2 separate regions of the Homo sapiens genome follow, and region 1 is linked to region 2. Evidence: fine-mapped expression QTL. Tissue or cell type: cerebellar hemisphere. Region 2 holds a variant in brackets; the other region holds the start of a gene. All regions are shown on one strand. Distances are from middle to middle.

The links. PIP is the estimated chance that this variant, and not a neighbour inherited with it, causes the effect.
Region 1: it holds the start of TUNAR, and the variant in region 2 is fine-mapped to the expression of TUNAR in cerebellar hemisphere (GTEx, PIP 0.90).

Annotation. Positions count from the first base shown.
Region 1 is chr14:95,875,819-95,878,428 of GRCh38, reverse strand. TUNAR (transmembrane neural differentiation associated intracellular calcium regulator) reads right to left here and starts at 1,597. Exons shown (of 2, transcript NM_001416131.1): 1 at 1,252-1,597. The coding sequence starts at 1,263.
Region 2 is chr14:95,800,505-95,803,004 of GRCh38, reverse strand. No RefSeq gene overlaps it. Among named protein-coding and RNA genes, the nearest start is that of TUNAR, 75 kb to the left of the region's middle. The variant T/G (reference allele first, on the strand shown) is at 1,013.

The DNA.
Region 1 (2,610 bases), 75 kb before region 2:
ACTGAGCTCAACACTGTGACTTCACCAATGGAACAAGCCCCTCAGACCAGGATCAATTGATTCCAGGTGGCTTGCCCCTTCAGGAACTAAATGCACTTAAGCAAACAGTTAACTAAATGCACTTAAGCAAACAGTTAACTAAATGCACTTAAGCAAACAGCTAACAGCGGCAAGCCAGAGAACTGGGGGCATGCATCAGGCATCGTATCTGCATTAAAACTCCTTTTCTTTGGGGCTCAGAAGTGTTTGGGGCTCAGAAGTTCTGCTGACACTGAGGGCTGGCAAATATGAGCCAACACTGGGCCAGCCCCTGCACAGTGGCCATCTGGGATCAGCCCCCGCTCCGGTTAAGTAATCATCTCCAAGATTTACAAAACCAGGGGCAGGTAACCTTGATGAGCCCTGCCCCCAGGGAAAGGTTAAGGATGCAGTTCTGAGGCCTAGCATGTGCTGGGCACACAGGAGGAACCACTGTCCTTTCCATCCTTCAGGAGGACTGGGAAAACAGAACCCCAGGAAAGAGAACACCTAGGAAAACATATTATCCTCTCACCTGAACTAAAAAGTAGAGTACACATTAGGGGTTGGCAGCAGCGTGATGGCAGGATGGACAAAAAGTGCTTGCTACAGGCAATTTATTTCATCAGAACAGATACTCATTGGAGCAAGTATTTTCACACACACGCAATGACTCTCGAGACGGAAGCAGTTAGTAGAAGAAATGAGACAGGTGTGTTTGTTACAAAGGGAACAGTCTGGCAGGGAAGTAGGGTACCCTGGTTTCCAATCCTGGTCTCCCACTTCCTAACCTTGTGACCTTGATTAAGTCATTCAACCTCTCTAAGCCTCAGTTTCCTCATCTGGGCCAAGGAGAAACGGGGACCTATTTCCCAGAGCGGCTTTGAGGCACACTGCCCGGCACGGCCTGGACACCCACTAAATAAGAGTTGTTGCCCCCAAATGCTAAGTCTGAACCTAGCTGCATACACATGCCGTTATCTAGACCAGACAGGTCTCCCGCCTGCATGTCAAACCCACATCTTTCTCCAGAAGGCAGAAGAAAGCACCAGGTCTGCCCGGGCAGTTCAGCCTCCAGGCGGGGCTTCGGGGCAGGGGAAATTGAACGATTCAATCGGAAGCCCCGAATGTTTCCAGGCTGTAAGTGGGGAAGGAGGGTAGGACAGGGGCCCTGAGGCGGCCTCCGGGCCCTGCGAAGGGAGCTTTGTTCGCGAGGCGGAGGGCCTGGCTTACCGAGAAGCGCATCCGGAGGCGGTTGAGGGGCGCGCGGGGCACGCAGCAGAGCCGCAGCCCGGCCCGGACCCGGAGCGCCGGAGCCGCAGGAAGGCGAGGAGAAGGAAAAAAAGGAGGCTGCCGCCGGCTCCTGCCTCATTCTCCCGGGCAGCGTTGACCCGCTGGCCGCCGCCGGATAGGGCTGGCCGCCGGGCGCGGGACCCCGTGCGCGCTGCTCATGTCCCCGTCTGCCGCTGGCTAGGTGTGCGCGCAGCCTGCTGGTCTCTGGGCGGCACCCGGGGGCTCCTCATGCCCCGCGCCGGGGCTCGGCGGGAGGACCTCGGAGAGGCAGCGCGGAGGGAAAGAGAGAGAGACAGCATGAGAACGCGCAGAGCTGCACCCCGCGGGGGCCGGGCGCCAGCAGCACCGCGCTGCCCCACCCACGGCGCGTCTGCTCCCCGCGCTGCGCGCCCAGCGGGGCGCCGAGCCCCAGAAACTTTAGCACATGGCCGGTCCGGCGGCCACGGTGGCCGTAGCTGCCCTGCTCTTCGAGCGCCCCCCACTGCTTCCTGCCCCAAGCCCCAGAGCGCAGCTTACCAGCGGCGACCGCGACCGCAGCGGCGGGGCGCCCACCCGGCCGCAAGCACAGCAGTGCGCACCTGCGGGAAAGGAGGAAGGGGCTGGCGGCGTCGGGGTCCCTACAGGGGAGGGGCACCTCGGCGGCAGCAATCGGCGCAGGTTAAGGCATTCTGGGCCGGGGCTGCGCGCGAGCCAGGTGGTGGCAGGCCGGGATTGGGGAGGGTCTCTGCGCCCCCCGCCCCGCGGCGCCGCTGCTGATGACGCGCGCGGGCTTCCCCGGCCCCGCGTCTGCGGAGCCAGCCCCGTTACCTAGCGACTCGCTCCGGGGAGCCCCCGCTGACGCGCGCTGCGAGCCGGGCTGCGGCAGCCGAGGGGCGGGGAGGGAGGGGAGGGGGAGCTCCAGTGCGGGGAGGGCCGGCGGCTGCGGGCCAAGCTCCTCCCTCCGCTTCCCTCTCCGCGTTGGGGAGGGGGCCCGGGAAAGACGTGGCCTCCGCCTGGCCCTGGAGGATGGGAGGCCTTCGCGGGGCGGGGGGGACGGAGGGAGGCACTGAGTGCCCCTGTCCCCGCAGTGGGGATGCAGCAGCAGGTGGCGGCTATGTGGCCTGTGGAGGCTCGGCACCCAGAGGCGCGCGGTGAGCCCGCCCCGGCGGGAGCGTGGCGAATGTGGCTTTGGGCGCGCGGGTGTGTGGGACACGCTCCCACCCACGTGGCGTACATGGGGACCTGGGGACGCGGGTGAAAGAGGCGCCTCCTCCTTCCTCTGGTCTCTCTCCCTCCTTCCTGGACATTTTGCTCCTGCGC
Region 2 (2,500 bases):
ATGCAGATCACAGTATTGTCTTTGTCTTTTTTCTGTTGCTATGGCTGAATACGCAAGGACGGGTAATTTATGAAGAAAAAAAATACTTCTTATAGTTCTGGAGGCTGGGAAGTCCAAGGTTGAGGGGCTGCATCTGGTGAGGGCTTTCTTATCATGTCATAACATCACAAAGGGCATCACATGGTAAGACAGCAAGAGCATGCCAGCTCAGGTCCCTCTTCCTCTTCTTATAAAGCTACCAGTTCCATCTTGGGGACCCCACCCTGATGACCTTATCTAATGGTAATTACCTCCCAAAGTTTCCACCTCCAAATGCCATCAACATATAAATTTGGGGATTAAATATCGAATACATAAAATTTGGGGATCGTATTTAAACCATAGCAAGTGTCCCAGAAATGCAATCTGTGTGGCTGCAGGGAGCGCACCAGATAGAGGACCACCCATTCTTTCCACCCAGCAGACTTTGGGGATTACTGCCCTGGTGCTCACCTATGTGACAAGGGCTCTCATGCTTCTGCTACGTTGGCTTCAGTGGCTGGCAATGCACCATCCCTGTGTTTCCCATCACAACGAAAGATAATATATGTAGAGCCCCTGGTACACAGTAGGTGGTCAATGAACGAAAACCGTTGTCATATTCCCCAGGCTTTCTATAGCTGAAGGTTAAAGTAAAATGCTTTTAGCTGAAGGGCACATGAAGTTTATTGACCATATTTTCTTGAAAGAGCCCTGGTTGAAAATAACTGTCCCCAGTACAACAGTTGTTATCAGAAAGGTCTCCCTTTGAATATGATAAACACACTGTCACACACATTCCCATCGGTCTCTGAGCCCACTGAGGCCCCCGCTTTAGGCAAAAGCATCACCATTTCATCTTGGGTGACTATTCTTGTGGTCTTTAAGAACCCAAGGAGGCGTAGATGGTATCCAAGCTCCTCTGCTTGGGTGAACAAGGCATGTTTATGCCAGAGGGGTGGGTGGAATGTGGTCAACAAGAACTGAGCAGATG[T/G]CCCATCTGGCCAGGCAATCTGTCCTTTCAAAAATTATTGCAGAGGTATGGTAGAGTGTAAAAATGAAACAGGGAAATTTAGATTCATGCTCAGCCTGGCCACTAGCTGTTTGCCTTTGGGCGTGTGACTACCTCTCTCTGAGCCTATTTCTTATGTGGAAGATGGGGTAATGGTACCATTTTTACTGGGCTATTGTGAGAAGGAGCTCAGATAACACACCTGAAAGGCCTAGTAGAGTGTTTGGGACACAGAAGCTGCTCAGCAGATACTAATTTCATTAGTTTATCTCTTCCCTTCTGTGCCTCCCTAATGTACCCACTCCCAAAGTAGACCCTCTTTGCGTGGACCCAACCTCTCCTAAGTTTACCACACCTTTAGGGTGGAAGGTTCCTTCCTCGTTGATATTCCCAACTGCCCCAAGTGACTTTTCCTTGTCTATATCTCACACATGGGCTCTAGGCTCATTGTGGCTTCCAGGACAACCACTGATTGGCCCATCCTCTCCTCTAGGAAACTTGTGGGGAAACAGTGGCTCCCACTTTCGTTATCTTCATCTAGCCCTGAAAAATGGGGCCACCCACTGGAGCAGTATCTGAAACAAAGCCCCAGCTTGCCTCCCTGGCCTAATCCTATCATTCATCCCTGTGCTGCTCCCAAACCCACTTCATGCTCTCCTGTCTCCACGACTTTGTTTCTATAATACTTTGGCCCACAAATGTGCACATGACATGCACACACACACACACACGCACACACACACACAGAAACACACACACATACACCTGTGAAAACTTCCACCTCCATTTCAAAGACTCTTCTGGACCCTGTGACCCTCAGCAAGTACCCCCTTGAAACTAAAATAAAAGTTGGAAAGAAAAAATAATAATTGCACTTGCTGAGGGTCACAGATTTTCTTCTAGGGTTCTTTATAGTTTCAGATTTTACATTTAAGTCTTTAATTCATCTTGAGTTGGTTTTTGTATATGGTGAATGGTAGGGATCCAATTTCAATCTGCATATGGCTAGCAAGTTATCCTAGCAGCATTTCTTGAATAGAGTCCTTTCCTCATTGCTTGTTTTTGTTAGCTTTGTCGAAGATTAGATGGGTGTAGGTGAGCAAGCACAATGTTTTCAAATCCCTTGAGCTCTTAGGTCATATCCCTTCTAGTCACCCCCCATGGGTCCAAATTTTTGAAAGACTTAAGGAAGAACTTATTTCCCCTCCAGCCAGATGAATGTCTTTATCCTTGTCACCTGTGTCAGTTTGCTAGAGCTGCTGTACAATCATCACCACATCAGTTTTAAAACATTTTCATCACTCAAAAGAAAACTTCATACCCATTAGCGCTCATGATTTTCCCCAACCTCCATTCCAACTTTAGGCAACCACTAATCTATTTTCTGTCCTTATAGATTTGCCTGTTCCAGATATTTCATAAGTGGAATCTTACGTGGTCTTTTGTGTTGACTGGTTTCTTTCACTTAGC